3 separate regions of the Homo sapiens genome follow, and regions 2 and 3 are each reported to be linked to region 1. Evidence: microRNA targets listed by miRTarBase, many of them from high-throughput screens and not tested one by one. Region 1 holds a microRNA gene; each other region holds the end of a gene's coding sequence.

The links. Region 1 holds the annotated microRNA hsa-miR-3672 (AUGAGACUCAUGUAAAACAUCUU, at 2,505-2,527, shown strand). A microRNA usually pairs through its seed, bases 2 to 8, with sites in the 3' UTR of a target mRNA and lowers its output. Matches are read on the target gene's strand: a 7mer-m8 pairs with bases 2 to 8, a 7mer-A1 pairs with bases 2 to 7 and ends in A, and an 8mer does both.
Region 2: the mRNA of SH2D4A is a reported target of hsa-miR-3672. Seed matches in the 3' UTR shown: 8mer at 6,130-6,137.
Region 3: the mRNA of FOXL2NB is a reported target of hsa-miR-3672. Seed matches in the 3' UTR shown: 7mer-m8 at 3,777-3,783.

What each region holds. Positions count from the first base shown.
Region 1 is chrX:121,368,482-121,375,679 of GRCh38, forward strand. It overlaps MIR3672 (microRNA 3672), which reads left to right and starts at 2,491; the gene lies at 2,491-2,572.
Region 2 is chr8:19,393,800-19,400,997 of GRCh38, reverse strand. It overlaps SH2D4A (SH2 domain containing 4A), which reads right to left. Exons shown (of 10, transcript NM_022071.4): 10 at 4,780-6,448. The coding sequence ends at 6,356. Among named protein-coding and RNA genes, the nearest start is that of SH2D4A, 84 kb to the right of the region's middle.
Region 3 is chr3:138,949,269-138,956,466 of GRCh38, forward strand. FOXL2NB (FOXL2 neighbor) reads left to right here. Exons shown (of 3, transcript NM_001040061.3): 2 at 252-371; 3 at 997-4,722. The coding sequence ends at 1,304. Among named protein-coding and RNA genes, the nearest start is that of FOXL2NB, 5.7 kb to the left of the region's middle.

The DNA.
Region 1 (7,198 bases):
AAAAAATCCTAATATTTATATGGAACCACAAAAGTCCCAGAATAACCAAAGCTATTCTAAGCAAAATGAACAAAACTAAAGGAATCATATTACCTGGCTTCAAATTATACTGCAGAGCTATAGTAACCAAAACACTATGGTACTGGCATAAAAACAGACACATACATTAATGGAACAGAACAGAGAACCCAGAAACAAATCCACACACCTCCAGTGAACTCATTTTTGACAGAGGTGCCAAGAACTTATACTGGGGAAAAGACAGTCTTTTCAATAAATGGTGCTGGGAAAACTGGATATCCATATGCAGAAGAACGAAACTAGACTCCCATTTCTTGCCATATACAAAAACCAAATCAAAATGGATTAAAGACTTAAATCTAAGACCCCACACTATGAAACTGCTACAAGAAAACTTGGGGGAAACTCTCCAGAGCACTGGTCTGGGGAAAAATAACTCCTTAAGCAATACCCCACAAGCATAGGCAACCAAAGCAAAAATGGACAAATGGGATTATATTAAGTTAAAAGCCTCTTCACAGCTAAGGAAACAACAAAATGATGACACAACCCATGGAATAGGAGAAAATATTTGCAAACTACCTATCTGACAAGGTGTTGGTAACCAGAATATATAAGAAACTCAAATTCTGTAGAAAAAAAGGATATTAATTTGATCAAAAATGTGCAAGAAAATTTTAATAGACATTTCTCAAAAGGAGACATACAAATGCAAACAGGCATATGAAAATGTGCTCAACATCATTGATTATCAGAGAAATGCACATTGAAACTCCCATATGATATCATCTCACCTCAATTAAAATGGCTTATATCCAAAAGTCAGCCACTAACAAATGCTGGCGAGGATGTGGAGAAAAGGGAAGACTCCCACTCTGTTGGTGAGAATGTAAAATAGTACAACTACTATAGAGAACATTTTGGAGGATCCAACAATCCCACTGTGGAGCATATACCCAAAGAAAGGAAATAAGTATCTGCACTCCCATGTTTGTTGAAACACTGTTCCCAATAGCCAAGATTTGGAAGCAACTTAAGCGTCCATCAACAGATTAATGGATAAAGAAAATGTTGTACCTGTACACAATGGAGTATTATTTAGTCATTAAAAAGATCAAAATGGATGGAACTGGAGATCTTTATGTTAAGTGAAATGAGCCAGGCACAGAGAGACAAACATCACATGTTCTAATTTATTTGTGGGGTCTAAAAATCAAAACAATTGAACTCATGGACATAGAGAGTAGAAGGATGGTTGCCAGAAGCTGGGAAGGGTAGTAGCAGAGGACCAGGAAGGGAATGTGGGGATGGTTAATGGGTACAAAAACATAGAAAGAATGGGTACAAAAACATAGAAAGAACATAAGATCTACATTTGACAGTACAACAGGGTTACTATACTCAATAATAACTTAATTATACATTTAAAAATAACAAAAAGGTGCAATTGGATTGTAAAACAAAGGATAAGTGCTTGAGGGGATGGATTCCTTATTCTCCATGATGTGATTGGTACGCATTGCATGCCTATATCAGAACATCTTGTGTACCTCACAAATATATATACCTACTATGTACCCACAATAATTTATTTTAAAAATTAAAAATTATTAGCACAATAAATAAATTGAAGTGAAATATATATATGATATATTTTCAATCATCTCAAATTTGTTAGACTTGTTTTTTGGCCTTACATATTCTCTGTCATGGAATATTTTCTTTATACGCTTAAAAAGACTACATGTTCTGATGCTGTTGAATAGAATGTTCTGTATATGTCTGTTAGGTCCATTTGGTCTATAGTGTTGTTCAAGCCACTTGTTTTCTTACTCATTTTCTCTTTGGATAATCTGTCCATTGTTGAACATCGGGTATTGAAGTGGACTGTTATTTTATTGCTGTCTATTTCTCCCTTCAGTTCTGTTAATAAATACCTTATATATTATATTTAGGTGCTCCAATATTGCATACATAGATGTATTTACATTTGTTACATCTTGTTGATGAATTTACCCCTTTATCATGATATAATGACTTTCTTTGTCTATTGTGACAGTTTTTGACTTAAAGTCTGGTTTTTTTCTGATGTAAGTAAAATAAATGTAGCCAACTAAGCTCTCTTTTAGTTACTATTTGCATGGAATATCTTTTTCCATTTCTTCACTTTCATCCTCTCTGTGTTCTTAAAAGTAAAGTGAGTCTTCTTACTTAGCATATAGTTGGATTCTAATTTTAAAATCGATTTAGTCACTCTGTTTTTTTATTGGTAAATTTAATTCATTTATATTTAAATAACTTATTAATAGGTTAAGTGTTTATTATTGCCATTTTGTTAATTGCTTTCTGACATTTTGTCATTCCTCTATGTCTTTCTTCCTCTATTTCTGTGTACCTTTGTGATTTATTTCTGTAATGGTATGCATTGATTTCTTTTTTTATCTTTTGTGTATTTACTACACATTTTTTTCTTTGTGATTACCATGAGACTCATGTAAAACATCTTAGACTATTACAAGATGTTTTATGAGTCTCATGATAATCACAAAGATTACTATTAAAGCTGATAACTTTGAACATGTTAAAACAACCTTACACTTCAACTTTTTCTTCCCCCCATTTTATGTTATTGATGCCACACTTCATATCATTTATATTGTGTATACTAAAAAGTTATTATAGTTATTTTCATACCTTTTTCTTTTGACTTTTGTGCTAGAGTCAAACATGATTTATGTACCACATCATAACGTAAGAGTTTTTTTTTTTTTTTTTAACGGAGTCAGGCTGGAGTGCAGTGGCGCTGTCTTGGCTCACTGCAACCTCTGCCTCCTGGTTTCAAGCGATTCTCCTACCTCAGCCTCCCGAGTAGCGGGGACTACAGGTGTGGACCACCATGCCTGGCTAATTTTTGTGTTTTTAATAGAGATGGGGTTTCACTATGTTGGCCAGGCTGGTCTCGAACTCCTGATCTCGTGATCTGCCTGCCTTGGCCTCCCAAAGTGCTGGGTTTACAGGCGTGAGCCACTGCGCCTGGCCACATTAGAGTATTCTTAATTTGACTATGTTTGTTTTTTGGGAGTTTTCTACTTTTCTCTCTTTTTGTTGTTAGTGTCCTTTCTTTTCAACTTGCAGGCCTTTCTTTAGCATTTCTTGTAAGGCAGGTCTAGGGGTGTTTAATCCCCCTAGCTTTTCTTTGTCTGGGACAGTCTTTATCTCTACTGCATATCTGAAGGGCAACTTTGCCAGATAAAGAACTACTGATTAGCAGTTTTATTATTTTATCACTTTGTATATGTCATCCTACTCTTTTAGCCTGCAGGACTTCTGCTGCAAAATCCTCTGATACTCCAGTGGAAGTTGGTTTGTATGTGACAAGCCTGTTTTCTTTTGCTGCTCTCAAAATTCTCTCTTTGTCTTTGAATTTTGAGAATGTGCTTATTATGTATCTTGAAGAGGTGTCTTTATGTTTAATATATTTGGGGCTCTTTACCTTCGTGGATCTAGATGTTCACTTCCTTCAGATATGAGAATTTTTCTGTCATTATTTACTTAAAGAAATTTTCTGCCCCTCTTGTCTCTATTCTGTTGGGCCTCAAATAATGTGTATATTGGTCCATCTGATTGTGTCTCATAAATTCTGTATACTTTCTTCATAATTTTTTATTCTTATTTCCTTTTGTTGTTTTGACTGAGTAATTTTGAATAAGCTGTCTTTGAACTCACTGATTCTTTTTTTGTTTGAGTCTGCTGAGGAAGACATCTGTGGAATATATCAGTTCAGTCATTGAATCGTTGCGTTCTTTAGCTCCAGGATTTCTGCTTGGTTATTTTTTAATGTTTTTTTTTTTTTTTCTCTTTGTCGAACTTGTTGTTCTGCTCATATAATGTTTTCCTGATTTTGTTTGGTTGTTTGTCTATCTTGTACTTCGTAGTTTTTGTTTGTTTTTGTTTTTTGTTTTTTTGAGACAGGGTCTCATTCTGTTACCCAGGCTTGAGCGCAGTGGCATGAACACAGCTCACTTCAGCCTCAACCTCTGGAGCTCAAGTGATCCTCCTGCCTCAGCCTTCCAAGTAGCTGGGACAAGAAGCTGGGACTATAGGCATGTACCACAATGCCTGGATATATTTATATTTTTTTGAGATGGAGGCTTGCTCTGTCCCCCAGGCTGGAGTGCAGTGGTGTGATCTTAACTCACTGCAACCTCTGCCTCCCAGATTCAAGCAATTTTCCTGCCTCAGCCTCCCGAGTAGCTGGGATTACAGGCGCCCACCTCCACGACCAGCTAATTTTTGTGTTTTTAGTAGAGACAGCATTTCACCATGTTGGCCAGGCTGGTCTCAAACTCCTGGCCTCAAGTGATCTGCCCACCTCGGCCTCCCAAATTGCTGGTATTACAGGCATGAGCCACCTAAGTTTTAAATATTTTGTAGAGACAGTCTCACCACGTTGCCCAGGCTGGCCTTGGACTCCTGGGCTGAGGCAATCTTCCTGCATTGACCTCTCAAAGTGTTGGGTTTACAGGCGTGAGCCATCGTGCCTGGCCTCCCTGAACTTTTAAAGATCATTATTTAAAATTATCAGGCGTTTCATAGATCTCTATTTTTAAGGTCAGCTACTGGTACTTTATTCTGTTCCTTGGGTGGTGTCATATTTCTTTGATTATTCATGATCCTTGTAGTTTTGTGTTGGTATCTGCACATTTGAAAAAGTAGGCACCTCTTTCAGTCTTTACAGACTGGGTTTGGCAGGGAAGCTGACTTTACCAGTCAGCTTGGCTAGAGGGTCTTGTTGGGTCAGCAGATGGAATCCGTGTTCGGACTTGGGTCTGGAGTTCTTGGGCAGGCTGGCCTTGTTTTAGGGCCTGGTGCCTAGGTTCACTATAGCTGGCCTTGTGTACGGATCTGCAGGGCCAGGCCTTGAGCTCAAGCCTGTACAGGTAGGCCTGGTGTCCTGGTTCATAGGGTTGAGCCTGGCTCTGGGTACATGGGGTTCAACCTTGCAGGGAGGTAGAACTTGAGCCTGAGTTGGGGAGGGTCAGCTTTGTGTGGGGGTGTGCTTATGTTTTGGGTCCACAGGAGCCAGTCTGACACCAGAGTATGTCTGGAGTCTGAGACTGTGGGGTCTGGTTTGGACCTGGGTCATAGGGGCTGGCCTGAAGTCTGGGTCCACAGATGCTGGCCTAGAGCCTTGGGCCACAGGAACTTGCCTTGTGTTGAGGTTGGCCTAGGGCCTGGGTTCACAGGTGCCAGTCTGTGTCCATGAGGGCCTGCTGGGAGCCTGATGCTGTCTGGGCTGGCTCAACACTGGGTGGGCCTGAAGCCTTGTTCCACAGAGATGGGCCCGGAGCCTGTGGCTGTGGTAACTAGCTTGGCATTGGGGTGGCCCTAGAGCCTAGGTCCATGGGTGCTTGCCTGGTGCTGGGGTCTATAGATAAGGTGAATGCTTATCCACTGTCATTCTTCCATGTGGAGGATGTGTCTGTCCATGCTACACTGTGAGGGCTTTGGGGAGGGGTGGTGTGGTTATTTGTGTAACTGTCTCACACACCACATACCCTTTTCAATGCATTTTATTTTATTTCATTGCTCCACCCAGTTGCTGCAATCACTTACATAGATTCCTTAACTGTTGTGAAGGTACTTTCATGAGTGGGTAATTTTTCAAATTGATGCTTCTTTGAGGAGTCCAGCACTGGATGCTCATATTCCAATATCTTGCTTCATCACTCTTCAATCGTTTTCTTTTAAAAAATAGTAAATGTCATGTAATTTGGTTTGGGGAACTGACAGGCAAGTTCTAGCTGACTAATTGATGAAGATGCAGAAGAGGCTGGCAATTTACAATTTTGAAAATTTTAAATAGAAAAATCTTGATTGGAATAATTGAGTTAGGGCCAAATGCTCAGACTGTCACATGCAGAGAAGCATGAGTTCTGAAAATACATATATTTGACCCTTTTCTTTTTGTTTTGGCCTTCAGCCCTTCTACCTATTAGATGATGGAAGACTTTGGACACTTTGGTAACTTGGGATGGACTCTAATTTCAAATTGCTCTGATCTTAGACTAGTTTTCTTTTTGGATATGGTTTAATGTCTGTGAGCGCAATAAGGAAGTCATTGGCTTGAACAGATTTGTGGCTCGGTGCTGAGGAAAAGTAGAATTGTGGATCCATGCCCAGGATGGATGTGTAGGAACAAACAGTTGGTGGCTGTGAACAAAGAGAATAATTTTTTACAAGGGAGTATTTCTCAGCATTTTACATCCTCTAATTTGAAGACTTTAGGGTTTCTTTTTCTCTTTAATCATTTTAATTGCATTCTTCTTTTAAAAAATCAAAACGTAGATGAGACCAATAACTCCAACCTCAATTTTTATTGGCACACGCGTGTGTGTGCATGTGTGTGTAAGAGTTCATGTGCATACACATGCATGATCACAAAATAGGTTTTATTCTGTACACATTGTCTTGAAACTTTTTTCTTCACTTATCAAAATGTCTTGGTGCAATATTTATGCCATTGCGTGTATATCTAGCTCATTCCTTTTACTAGCTTTATATTATCCTATAATATAAACATTCTATATTTCATTTGCTATTCTTTTATTCATGGGCATTTTTGTTATCTTCAAATTTTCAATACTAAAAACAAGACCATAATCAACAATTCTGTGCATGGCCCTGTGTGCATAGATGCAAGTATTTCTATATGGAAGACACAGAGTTTACTTGCTAAGTACAAGCAATTGCAAATTTGCAAGTTGCTTTGGGTACAAACAGTCTTGCCAACTACATATTACTCAATTGGTCTCCCAAACCTTTCGCAGCATTTACTCCATATTCCACCCAAACCTTGACAAAATCAGTTTTTAATTTTTGCAAATAATAAGTAATAAGTACAGATGCTCCTCAACTTAAAATAAAGTTATGTCCTGATAAACCCGTTGTAAGTTGAAATTATTGTAAGTTGAACATGTATTTAATATGCCTAACTTAGCAAACATAATAGCTTAGACTAGCCTACCTTAAATATTCTCAGAACACTTGTATTAGCCTACAGCTGGGCAAAATCATCTGGCGACACAGTACACTATAGCGTATTAATTGTTTACCCTTGAGATCATGTGGCTGACTTGGAGGTGTGGCGCACTGCTGTTGCTCAGCATTGTAAGAG
Region 2 (7,198 bases), not on the chromosome of region 1:
CTCCAGCCACTGTGCAATGACCGGCAGTGTTAGGACTCCATATGGGATCAAAGCCCTGGAATCTGGCTCTCATGCAGGATTCCAACATGTTACATTGAAAGAGTGATGGCCGGGCGCGGTGGCTCACGCCTGTAATCCCAACACTTTGGGAGGCCGAGGCGGGTGGATCATGAGGTCAGGAGTTCAAGACCAGCCTGGCCAAGATGGTGAAACCCCGTCTCTACTGAAAATAAAAAAGAGTTAGCCGGGCTTGGTGGTGGGTGCCTGTAATCCCAGCTACTTGGGAGGCTGAGGCAGAGAATTGTTTGAACCCGGGAGGCAAAGGTTGCTGTGAGCTGAGATCGCGCCACTGCACTCCAGCCTGGGTGACAGAGTGAGACTCCATCTCAAAAAAAAAAAAAAAAAGAAAAGAAAAAATGATTTGAGTAGGAGGGGACAGCAGGTGGGAATACTTGCTTTTTTTAAAAAAAGACTTGATAACTGTTTGTGAGAATTGCTGATAAGAGACAATGACCTTGGGCAGTTTCTTAGCAGGGCAGGGGTGTTTTACTCCCCACACACATCAAATGACTGGCAGCTTTGTGTGATCCATATTCTGATTAGCTTTATATTTTAATTCAAAGCTGTTTCTCCTGGCAGGGCTCCGTGCTTTGCTGTTGCTGCCAAAAACTATGGGGATGGTGCCAGTTGGTTGGGGGGTTTTGATGGTAGTTTTTTCCAACACACAGAATATGTTCTTTCCTGTCAGCAGAGGTGCCTTTCAAACTGTGCATTACTGATCCTTTGAACATGCCCTCTGGAGTAGTCACCCCGAGTGTCTCCTCGGCTGTGTCTGGCATATCTGCTATTCTAGCAAGAAGGTGGACAGAACCATAGGGGAGGAGGGGCAGGGCAGAGCCGCCTTGGGGAAGGTCACAGGCTGGGAAGGGCAGGCATTGCTGTGGGGAGAGAAGTAGGGCTGTGCTCCTTCAAGACCCTTCTGCAGCCTCCACAGTCGCCCCAGGGACTCAGTGAGGGCCAGCCATCCATGGCAGCCTCCGTCCGGGACTCACCCGGCACAGAGTGAGCCGACTCTCTGCAGGTCAACTGGCAAATGAATGTATTGTGTGGTTCGTCATTATATACCTTACTCTTCAGAAGTTTCCCCTTCCTTCTTAAAATTGATCCCAGAAATTCTAGGAAACAAGGGTGGGGGATAAACAGCCCAGTGGTCACATAAACTGAGTTGGCAAAGGGGAAGGCTGGAGTGCAAGGATCCTGGCTTTGTTGGACTCATAATTCACTAGGAAAAGGAAAATGCAATTACCCAATTACTATTTATGGAGAGCTGGCTTTCTTTTCTCTCTTTTTTTTTTCTTTCTAAAGACAGGGTCTCACTCTGTCGCCCAGGCTGGAGTGCATTGGTACAATCATAGCTCACTGTAGCCTCGAACTCTTGGGCTCACGTGATCCTGTGGCTTCAGCTTCCTGAGTAGCTGGGACTACAGGCACATGCCAACCACACCTGGCTAATTTTTGTATGTTTTGTAGAGATGTGGGTTCTCACTATGTGGGCCAGGCGGGTCTCAAAATCCTGGGCTCAAATGGTCTTCCTGTGTCAGCTTCCCAAGGAGCAGGGATTTCAGGTATAAGCCACCATGCTGGGCCCATGGAGCGCTTACTCTATGCCAGATATTTAACATATTTCTTTCCTAATCGTCAGAACCCAGGTGACTTTAGTAACGACTGTCTGAGAAATGAAATTGAAGCTCAGACAGGCTTAGTTACTGTTTTTCTTTAACGACTCCACACAGCTAGTTATGGTATACCCAGGACCGCACCCCAAACCTGCTGGGCCTGCTCTCTACTATACTGAGCAGCCTGATTATCAAATAATGTGTTTTTACCACAATTAAAACAGGGTACTTTTATCATTTAAGCTTCCTGACAATTGTCAGTCTGGGGAAGCAGTGGGAAGCCTAAAGATCTTTGCATAGGGAGAGAAGGTAGGATGGGAAGTAGCTAGACATGTAAAAGTGGTACTAAAATCCACCTGGAGGCAGTGAAGTGCAGAATTAACATTGCTGAAAATTTAATCACTGATGGGAAAAGGACAGATGCAAGAGCTCTCCCAAAATACAACAGAAAAGAAGGGAGAGATGAAAACAATGGGGGTGAGAATACCAAATGAAAAGCAAAGAAAAATCCAACATTTATAGCTATTCCCAAGGAAGAGAAAAGCTAAATTCAAACAGATTATTTAAAGATACAGTCGTTGAAAACGTATGTTCTAAAACAAAACAAAACAAACCCTGTGAATTGCAGCCTGAAAGGAAAGCATGTACCACGTTCTGGATAAATATGAAAGCAAAGAGGCCCCATGGAAACATATCCATGCATAGCCCATGCATTTGTGTCTTCTCTCACCAAATAGCAGGAGCCCCAAAATATGTATGTGTGGGCCATAAACATGTTAGAACTCCAGTGCATTAAGAAAACTGCCTTTACAAAAGGTGGCAGTTGCAAAACTTTAAGCCATGAATTTTTCTTTTTTTAATCTAAAAGCAGATTTCATGTCATATTAGCAAAGGATGCTTAATTCCAAAGCATTAGCTCAGATAGGCAATTTTGGGTGGAAATGTCCCGGAGGTATTTTTGGTGACCTGACTGACCATTGCCCATCTACTTTTTTCTTTCTCTGATCCTTTTTTTCCTAACTTGCCCTGTGTTTTCTCCATTTTTAGGGTAAGCTTTGGGCCAGAAAGCACCTTTTTTTTTTTTAGACGGACTTTTGCTCTGTCACCAGGCTGGAGTGCAGTGGTCTCGGCTCACTGCAACCTCCGGCTCACTGCAACCTCCGACTCACTGCAACCTCTGACTCCCAAGCTATCTCCTGCCTCAGCCTCCTGAGTAGCTGGAATTACAAGGCATGTGCCACCAAGCCCAGCTAATTTTTGTATTTTTTTTTTTTTTTTTTTTTTAGTAGAGACGGGGTTTCACCATGTTGGCCAGGATGGTCCCGATCTCCTGACCTCGTGATCCACTTGCCTTGGCCTCCCAAAATGCTGGGATTACAGGCATGAGCCACCGTGCCCAGCCAGAAAACACTTTTTCAGACTGACTAGCACTGCTGGTGACACTCAGGGCCAAGCGACCTTCCTTGTGCATCCTACTGCAGCAGGGTAGGGCAGGAGGCCAGAAGCAGGGTCCTTGCAAGTGACCTGATAGGTCTGTGAGCATCTGGCAATACGGTGGCAGCCAGAAAATCTTACATGACTGTGGGCGGGAGATTCCAGAATTGTGGGAGAGAAGAATCTAGATGGGCAGGAGTATTTGGCCACAGTCCCAGTGAGTCAGGGTCTGCAGACCAGAGCCCCTAGGCTTGAGAACCAGGACAGTAACATGAAAGCAGCATTCCTAGACCCAGAAACCTTGCGCAGGCAGGTCAAGGAGCTGGGCTTGCAGAGGCAACAGGAGGAGGAGACCAGGGTCAGAGTTTGGACATCTTCACCTCAGACCGTAACTCAGGGTAAATGTAGGCAGGACAGAGACCACAGCACTGCTCGGATGACCATTCAGGCCTCCTGAATTCCATTCGGTTGAATTCAGTTTCTGAAATCTGTAAACCATTCTCCTTCCCTAAGAATTTCAAGTGTCATTCGTGCCATCATATCATCCAACACTGGACAGTGTATTCCTCTATCAATCAGCAACCAACAGGATAAACTAGTCCGGAACCCACATCTGCTCCCCTGTGTAATATTGGGTGAATTCAGTTGGGTGACTTCCTGTTTTCTAAATCTTCCTTTAATAGGATGTTGCTTTGTGTAGTTATATCTGGATATGGCCACAATTATTTCCTACAAGATAACTGTAGGCACAGGGGGGTATTGGATTTTTTTTTCCCCCAGCACGTAGTCTTGCTTTGTAGCCAGACTGGAGTACAGTGGTGTGATCTCGGCTCACTGCAACTTTCGCCTCCCAGGTTCAAGCAATTCTCCTGCTTCAGCCTCCAGAGTAGCTGAGATTACAGGTGCATGCCACCGTCCCCGGCTAATTTTTGTATTTTGAGTAGAGACGGGGTTTCACCATGTTGGCCAGGCTGGTCTTGAACTCCTGAACTCATGATCCACCCACTTTGGCCTCCCAAATTGATGGGATTGCAGGCATGAGCAACTGCACCTGGCCAGTACTGGAATCTTACATCTTCCTAATTATTAGTGGTGACAAGTGGGTACTTTCCATTCATTCCAGTGAGAAGCACTAGAACCTTAAAATTTCAGAATTGGATGAAAATAACAAAGATCACCCAGTTGAATCATATTTTTTTTTGTTCAGAAGCAAAAACTGAGGCTCAGAGACAAACTGTCCTGTCCAAGATTATACAGAAAATGGTAGGAAGAGTTGAGAAGTTTCTCAATAATGCCATGACTGTTGAATCATAGGAACAAAAGCCAAGAGATGGATCCTTACAATAGTTTAACAATATAAACCACATGGAACATTTCAAGAAAGAGTTAAACAATGATCTATGTTTAAAAGCTATCTCTACCTGGCATAGTATCTCACATCTATAATCCTAGCACTTTGGGGGTTTGAGGCAGGAGGATCGCTTGAGGCTGAAGTGAGCTGTGATCGCACTACTGCATGCCAGCCAGGGTGTCAGAACAAGACTCTGTCTCTAAAAATAATAATCACCATCATCTTTCTCATTAGAACACACATGCCAACCATCCCCTTCTCTGGCTACATTTTATAGTCAATGAGTGCTGTACGCAACCAACAAGCTTGTAACAACACTGCTGTATCATTCTGCTTTTATTAGAAGGCAATGTAAAAGAGTATTGACCTACACAGTTAGGCCAGAGGTACTAGCCAATCTCCATCCTCCAAGAAAAATGATCTCCAGTGGCTCAGAGCCACCTCAGTCCCTGTCCAGAGGCCGTTCGCCTGACTGGGACTGGACTGAGGTGGGCGGGGGTTCCAGGAGGGCATAAGATTCCTGACGGGACAAATATGTGTGCCAGGGCTAAACAGAACTGGCTGGAATGTTTTTCTTACCTCCCATTTCTACTTCATTATGAAAATGGTGGACTGGGCAGCAGTGAATGGGTCGATCTTGTGTGTCAGGTTATGTAATTACATAAACGACTGTATTAGCTTTCTGGGGCTATAGTAACAAGTCAGCATGAACTCAGCATGAACTAAGCAGCTTAAAACAACAGACATTTATTCTTCCAGTTCTGGAGTCTGGAATTCTGAAGTCAGGGCCATGCTTCCTTCTAAGGCTTGTGGGGAACCTGTCCCATGCCTCTCTGCTGGCTTCTGCTGGTGGCCGGAGATCCTTGGTGTCCCTTCCCTTCCGGCTGCATCACTCCAACTTGCCTCTTGTCCCCTGGTCTTCTTCCCACTGCATTTGTGTCTATTACCAAAACTCTCTCTTCTCCTAAGGATGCCAGTCATTGGATTTGGGGCCCACCCTAATCCAATGTGACCTCATCTTGACTATATCTGCAAAGACCCTATTTCCAAACAAGGTCCCATTCACGGGGATGGGGGTTAAGACTTCACCATATATTTTGGGGGAACACAATTCAACCACAAGTAGCATCCAAACAGCCTGCTTATTCTGTTCTTGTCTAAGCACTTCTGATAAAAAATAAAAAAATACATGTACAGATGCTTTATCCTTTTGGTGCACTATAGAGTATATCCAGGGGAGGCCAGGCCAGCCCCGGCCCCATTCTCCCGAACAAGAAAACAAACTCAGCGATGTTTGCTCACTTTCCTGCAGGTCCATCTGTATTTTCATGCATGTTAAGCCTCTCATTCAATTTACATTCATGACTTCTGTTTTTCTATGTCTCTCATGTCCTGGTTCCAACATGTACAATAAGTGAGGTGTGTTTTAAGCATCATCTCAGCCAGGAAAGGCTTTTGCTACCATTCCAAAGCCAACATGAAACTTCGAAACTTCATGTCAACAGGCCCCTGAAACCTCCTGAGATGATACAGAGGGAGTGCAGGGGTCATATGATAGATATTCGTTTTCAAGTACACCTTAATTTCTAAAAGTTTTCCATTTCTTCATTTGTTTTATTTTATGTACATCATTAAGGTCATACCCTTCATGACAGGTACTTGCTGAAATTGAGACTCTTCTCCCTTTTGAGCAGAGGTCATTTTCTCTTGACATTGAATTCCAGTATTTGTGCAGAAAAGAGGTGTCAATGAGGACTCCATGGATACTTTACTTTCAGTTGATCAGTATTGGCTCTGCTGCAGGGTGATTTTGGCTTCACACATAAATGTTGCAGTGGCATTTGTCCAGGGGAAAGCCCGCTTGGAGGCTGTAGGATGACCCTGATGGAGGCTGTCACTCAAACAGCTCCAGGTAGTCAGGCAGCTGGTCCTGCTGACCACAGGGATAGAGAAGGAGCTCCTTCCCCAGGGAAGTGATGGGTTCCTCCTGTCAATCAGAAGGCACGGGGTCAGATAGTGTAAGTAGTGACCACATGCTCTTCCTACTTCCTCAGAGGACATCACTAGCTGCCTACCCATGATTTACACAAAGCTTTTGTGGTTTATGATCATCTTAAAAGGCATTTTTCTTATCTACATGTGACCAGGTACTCCTTTCCCTTCAGGGCTTGAATTCTAACTTAAGGCCTATGAATTCTCATAGGTCAGGGGTCCCCAACCCCAGGGCCATGGACCAGTACCAGTCTGTGGCCTGTTAGAACTGGGCTGTATAGCAGGAGGTGAGCAGTGGAGTGAAGCTTCATCTGTATTTACATCTGCTCCCTGTCATTCACATTATCGCCTGAGCTCTGCCTCCTGTCAGATCAGTAGCAGCATTAGATTTTCATAGGAACACAAACCTTATTGTGAACTGTGCATGGGAGGGATCTCAGTTGTGCGCTCCTTAGGAAAATCTAATGCCTGATGATCTGTCACAGTCCCCCATCACCTCCAGATGGGACTGTCTAGTTGCAGGAAAACAAGTTCGGGGCTCCCACTGATTCTACACTATGTTGAACTGTATAATTATTTCATTATATATAACAATGTAATAATAAAATGCACAATCAATGTAATGTGCTTAAATCATCCTGAAACCATCCCCCAACACTGAGTCCATGGAGAAATTGTCATCCAGGAAACTGGTGTCACAAAGTTTGGGGATTGCTGTCATATGTGATCCATGTGGGTACAGCTT
Region 3 (7,198 bases), not on the chromosome of region 1:
TTCCGCTGCTCAGCCCTGCAGCAGCCAGGTGTAACAGCATTGTTGTGTGTGTCATCACTTCCCTGAATTCCACACTCGGCTCCCTTTTCAGCCTTTAAAGAGCCTGTGTGTGTATGCATGTGCGTGTGTGTGTGTGTGTGTGTGTGTGTAGGGGTTGGGGGCAAATGAAGGAGTTCCTCTGAAGGATTTTCAGAATAGAAAGGAGTTCTGCTCTGAAAATACTGATTTCTGACTGTCCCGTAGAGGAACAGAATCCCCAGCCCTGGTGAAGAAGAGGATGCCTGATGCGTGCACCCTGGGAAGGGCTGGAATCGGTCTCCCCAAGATGTGCCTTCACATGGCTGTCCGGCATTCGAAGGCTCAGAAAACAGGCAAGAAAATGCGGGCGGGAAAGCTGGCAGAATGATTACTTTCAGGTCCCCTCCAGGCTTCTGCGGAAAAGCCAGGGGCTTCGGGCTGGAGATAGAGGAATCTAGGGAGAGAACAGAATCCTCTCCTTGCCGGCCCAGCCAGAGGTGGGTGAACCGGGCGCTCCAGGAAACGGTGCGGGGCGCCCTGATTTACTTCTCAACCTTCGGAGGTAGGCTGGTTGCTGGCGAGGTCGGGATCCTCTCTGAACAGGGCATACTGTGCCTAGGTTTTGTGGACGCCAGGGCCGGTTCCTTTTCTCCCCGCGGCATTGGGGCGACGCAGGGCCCCCGGCTTAGTGACCTTGGGGCGGCGCTCACCTCCAAAGGCCAGGGTGGTGGGCTGGGCAGAACTCACTGCCTCTTTGCCCCAGTTTTCCAGGGTCCCGCAGCTGCAATTCAGCAGCCACCGGCGCCTCCTGACCGTGGTCCCACCGTAGCGCCGCCTGCGGATACGGTTCCAGTGAACCGCCGATTGAGCGCAGTCTCAGCTCCCGCGCCTCCTCGCAGCCTGGCCCCGCGCCTCGGAGGTCCCGACAGCCGGCGCGAGCAATCTACACGGCTCTGATACAGACGCTTTTCTCCCCAGGGCCGGGAATCCTGCAACAGCGGCAGAAGCCGCCCGCGCCTCGGGCTTCCGGCGGCCCAGCTCTACTAGGGAAGCGTCGCGGCTGCTCTGAGGCAGGCAGCGCTTCGCTAGAACCACTCAGCTCGTCCCGCGCCGCCGCCGGCTGCCTGAACCAGGTTCCGCTGTCCCCTTTCCTAGCGGGACCCCGAAACACCCGGCGGCTTCCCGCTCCTGAGCGGGAGAGAATAGAGCTTGCTGCAACCCTCTGCTTGGAGGGATGGCCTCTGCGGTGCTTGGCTAGCAAAGGGAAGCTTCACTGTGTCTATTAGTACATCCCCATACACTCCACGCCTCAACAACTGTCAGCACTCACTCCCTCCCGGCCCCTCACAGGGCCCTTTGCACCCACACCTCAGGGACTCGGTGTCCCTCCACTCAGGTCACGTTACTCCATCCACTTCTCTCTCCTTCTCCCTCTGTCAACTCCAAATCCCCTCTAGTTCTCCCTCCCCTCCTACTTCTCTCACACTCACCAGCTACACGTACTAATTCAGATTTTGCACATGTTGGTGGAAAACATGTCAAGCCAATGTGCAGACCCTAAGGCTTTTCACACGCTGCTCACTTTCGCATCTCACGGTGCAGAAGGACCAATGGGCTCCAGGTTTACAAGCCTGACTCCGAGAAGCCTGTTGATTCTCTGATGTCCTTGGCCTGTGATTCGGGTGACTGGGCTGCCACCTGGGTGTTTTCATGATGGGACTGCCGCACAGACCACAGAGAAGCTCAGGTACTGAGCACGTTCCAGATACACTTTAACATGCACAGGCCACTCACACAGGCTTTATCTCTGTCTCGAAACTCTGCTGAGTTTGCTGCTCAGACCAACAAGGTGCAGCAGCAGACACCCACATAGCACCAGGTCTGAAGCCAGTGGGTATTAGTCTGCCTGGTTGGGATTAGCAAAGTCAGTTACTCACATATGTGCTTGGGAGAGAATAGGGGAGTGGAGAGAGAGAGAGAGATATTGAGGAAGAGGAAAGAGAAGCGACCTCCTACTCTGGGAAGAACTCACACATGAGAGCTGTTTCCTGTTGTTAAGTGTCTCACTGAGCTCCCCTCTTTCTCCCCCAGGAAGGGCTTGAGAGGCAGTAGACCAGAGCTCTGGGCTCCTCTTTACCTTGCTGATGTTGGGGTATGAGTCCTCCAACACCATTTTGTCCCAAGGAGTATGTGCCCCATCGTCAATCAGGCAGAATGCAGGGCAGTTGTCGGCCTTTTTCATGGTGGAGGCCAACTGGGAAAAAGGCAGAAGGGTCTGGGTCCTGGGCCAAGTGAGGCCCTCTTCCCTCCAAAGACCCGTGGGATGCTCTCAGAGGCGGATTCTAGGGTGGTGGGAGCTGCTGACAAGTTTCCTCTGATATCCCTCATGACATCTATGGCCCAAAGCCATTTTGTTCAGCTCTGAACAGTGAGTGCCTTGCCAGTAGGCCTCAGGCTTGCTGGGGAACATGATGTGTTCTTAAAAGTTGCCTTGTTGCCTTTCTCCACACCCAGACTGTAAGCGCTGATGGGCAGAGACTCTGCCCTCCACTTCTCACTCAGTGCTCCCCACCAGGATGGGCTTAATGCCTTTTAATAGAATTAGAAAATGGTTCTGCTGGACAGAATTGGGAAATGCCACTTTCCTTATAATGAAGTTATAATGAAGTTAGAATTTCCAAGAAAGGGACTGTAGCTGAGGAAAAGCGGTTTGATCATTGACAGCCAGCTCAGGATCTGAGAGTTCTTTGCCATTTGGGGTTATTATAGCTGCATGGCCATGGTGCTGAACCTTAGGCAAGGGCAAGGACACCTCCCTAGTTCCCAGTCATGGTGAGGACCTGTCTGAAACATTCAAACTAGACTTTACTGGAAACAGAGAAGTCTCTGCATTCAGGGCAGCTGGCTTGCAAGGTAAGGCCTGCAGTCTCCACCCGCACGCTAACCCATGAGGGGATGCCAGAGAGAGCCCTTCCCCCTTGGTCCTCATTCCTGGCTCAATTTTCTCCCACAAAGCGGGCACTTTCTAAAGATGATAGGCAACTGCCATGGAGGAAGGCAGTTTTAGATGCCTAGCTGGCACAAAGTCCAGAGGAAGGGAGGGAGAAGGGCTGAGTTTTGTATTACTGTTCTACCTTTGGAGATTTTCCTCATGCCAAGATAGGGTGTGTGTGTGTGTGTGTGTGTATGTGTGTGTGTATGTGTGCACTATAACTTTATGAAACACTTTTTTTTTTTTTGAGACAGGGTCTCACTCTGTTGCCCAAGCTGGAGTGCAGTGGTGCAATCTTGGCTTACCGCAGTCTCCACCTCCCAGGCTCAAGTGATCCTCCCATCTCAGCCTCAGCCTCCCAAGTAGCTGGGACTATGGGTGTGAGCCAACACACTCAGCTAATTTTTTTTTTTTTTTTTTGGTATTTTTGGTAGAGACAGGGTTTTACCATGTGGGCCCAACTGGTCTTGAGCTCCTGAGCTCAGGGTGATTTGCCTGCTTCAACTTCCCAAAGTGTTGGGATTACAGGTGTGAGCCACCATGCCCAGTCAGTTTTTTATTTTTTATTTAAACAGTTTTGGGGGAACAGGTGGTTTTTGCTTACATGGATAAGTTCTTTAATGGTAATTTCTGAGATTTTGGTGCACTTGTCACCCGAGCATTGTACACGGTACCCAGTGTGTAATCTTTTATCCCTCATCCCCCTCCTACGCTTCCCCCCCCGAGTCCCCATTATATAATTCTTTTTTTCTTCTTTTTGAGACAGAGTCTCACTCTGTTGCCCAGGCTGGAGTGCAGTGGCATGAACTTGGCTTACTGCAGCCTCCTGAGTTCAAGTGATTCTCCTGCCTGAACCTCCTGTGTAGCTGGGACTACAGGCATGCACCACCATGCCCAGCTAATTTTTGTATTTTTTGTAGAGATGGGGTTTCACCATGTTGGCCAGGCTAGTCTTGAACTCCTAACCTCAAGTGATCTGCCTATTTTGGCCTCCCAAAGTGTTGGGATTACAGGCGTGCGCCACTGCGCCTGGTCCATTATGTCATTCTTATGCCTTTGCATCTTCATAGCTTAGCTCCCACTTATAAATGAAAACACAGGATATTTGGTTTTCCATACTTGAGTTACTTCACTTAGTATAATGGTCTCCAGCTCCATCCAGGTTGCTGTGAATGCCATTATTTTGTTCCTTTTTATGGCTGAGTAGTATTCCATGGTGTATATATATCACATTTTCTTTATCCACTCATTGGTTGATGGGCATTTAGCCTTGTTCCATATTTTTGTATGCAGTATAACTTACAGATGGTAAACAATATACAGCTTGATGTATTCTGACATGTAATGCAGTATGTAACCACCACCTGGATCAAGATATGGAGCATTTCTGGCACTTCAGAAGGTTCCTTCATATCTTTTTCCAATCAATATTGCCTCAAAAGGGAAACCATATTTGGATTTCTATCACCATAAATAACCTTTGCCTGCCTTGAGCCTCGTATAAATGGAGCATATAGCATGTATGCCTTTATGTCTAGTTTTTTCTGTGCAACATATTTTTAATATTCACTGGTCTTGTTGCATGTGTCAGACATTTATTTCTTTTTATTGCTGTGTAATATTCTAGTATTTGCTTATCCATCCATATGTTGAGGGACATTTGTTTCCAGTTTTTGGATATCATAAATAAAGCTGCTGTGCACATTGTTGTACATGTCTTTTTGTGAAGGGTATTTTACTACTCTTGAGTGAACTGTAGGAGTAGGCATATATTTAGTTTCAATAGATTCAGTCAAACAGTTTCCAAAGTGATAAAACCAAATACAGTGATATACAGATAGACAGACATACTTTAACAGGGCCTTTCCCTTATAGATAGCATTCTCTAAAAACCACTATTTAGCTGCACTTGTTATTACTGTTGTTATAAATGGAAAAAACAGCTTTTTTGTTTTTTGGTTTTTGTTGCACAAGGTCTCACTCTGTCACCCAGGCTGGAGTGCAGTGGCGTGATCGTGGCTCACTGCAGCCTTGACCTCCTGGGCTCCGCCTCCTGAATAGCTGGGACTACAGGTGCTCACTGCCGTACCCAACTAATTTATGTATTTTTTGTAGAGATAGGGTTTCGCTGTGTTGCCCAGGCTGGTCTCGAACTCCTGGGTTCAGACAGTCCTCCCATCTCAGCCTCCCAAAATACTGGGATTACAGGCATGAGCTACCACACCTGGCCAAAAAAATAGCCATCCTTTATTAAGCAGTTATTTTGTGCCAGGAACATTACATGCATTATCTCATTTCATTTTTATGAGAAACCTAAGGGATTGGTACTATTCCCATTTTACACTTGAGGAACCTGAGGCTCAGAGAGGGTGAGTAACTTGCCAAAGGCCCCTGGCTGATAAGTGACCACTTGACTGTGGGCTCTGAATTTCACTTCCGTACATGTACCTCTGTTTGTTCCCGTGAGGTCAGGAAGTTCTCCCTTCCATCTGAGCAAATCTAGCTGCCGGGTAAGAGACTCATTTCCTATCAACCTGTAGTCCTCTCTGCATACCTTCTCACACCTAGATTTGAGATCTGTGTACACACCCATATGCACACAGTTTCTCTCCCACAGCCACGCACACTCACTGTGAAGAAGAAGAGGATGGGGGCCAATTTAGTGAAGACTTCAGAGCTTGCCAAGTCCCGGGCTCAGCAACCTAATGGGATCCCTCTCGGAATTTGCAGAAGATTGGACTAAGATTGGACTAGGGACCAGCCTGTTTCTGGATGCTACAGAGGATAATTCAGAGGCTTTCCTTCCCTGGAAAGAGATGGGAATTTGGTCCTCCTCCCAGCATGCTGAGCCAAGCCCATGGTGGGCTTCAGAGGCTGATGCCTAGGGCATCCCTCTGCAAGGTTTGTCGACAGATGTTGCAGTTTGCCTTGGAAGGTGGTGAGTGGGGAGGATGAGTGTGGTCTGAGCAGGGAGAGAGCAGGAAGTCTGGGGAACTGCCCCTCTAGGCACAGTGCTTGACTAGGCCCTGCATGGAGTGGGCACTGCAGGAGGGAGAACCAGCAGCCTCCTCCTCGGGGCCATAGGTTACCAAATTTCCAAGTCTCCAAGCCCCTAAGCTTGACTGAGAGGAGTGTTGCTACTCTGTGGGTAGAGGCCATATGTGGGTTTTCTATGCTTTGCAGGTGGCCCCTCCTCAGGCCCCTTTCTAGACTAATTGAGGTCTTGCTGGGCTCTGGGTTTGTAATTGGGGGTAATTGCTGACAGGCTGTTGGGGTGGTACAAGCAGGTTTTTGTTGGGGAAGCAGTAGTCAGGATTTGGGGGCTTTGGGTGGGGACAGTCCAGGATCCCGATGTTCCCTATTCCAGGAAGCTCTTGTCCCTGGCCGTTTGCTTGGAGGCAGTACTCCTGAGGACCAGGGACTCATAGCATATCTGAACAGGAAGGGACCTCCTCGTGCAGGTGCTGGGAACTCAGATCCAGAGGCACACGGAAGGAGGTAGTGCAGCTGCAGCAGAGGTCCTGATGCCTGGCACTGTCATCTATGCACACCGCTGACAGGCTGAGAGGCACTGCCGTTGGGTGGCTAACAGACCTCTGTTCCAATTCCTACTGATATCAGCCTTGGAAATGATGGACGCTCGCCTTGCTTCAGAGTTTTAAATTTTTTAAAATCATTTTTTGAGTAGGCAATGTATTCACATGGACCAAAATTTAAAAATATAGAAGGCTTGCAGTGAAAAGTTTCTCTCCCACTTCTGTCCCCCAAGTCACCCTTCTCACAGGCAGCCAGTGACCCTGGTTTCACATATATCCTTCCAGACATAGTTTATGCACATACAAGCATACCCACATACATTCTTCTGCACTCCCTCAATTTTTGCCTATGGCAGCATTGAATGCACAGTGTTCTGCACCTTAGATCTTTCCACATCAATGCATTCTCTTTTTAGAGCTGCATGCTATCTATGTTGTTTCTGATCCTTTGCTTTTACAAGCAATACAGTACTGTATAAACTTGCATATATCTCATTTTGTAGGTATGTATATATATATTTATAAAAAGATTTCTGAAAGTGTAAGATTGGGTAATGGATATATGCACCTATAACTTTGATAGATTATGCCAAATTCCTTATAGATTGAGCCAGAATACACTCTTGCCAACAGTGTGTGGCATTCCTGTTTC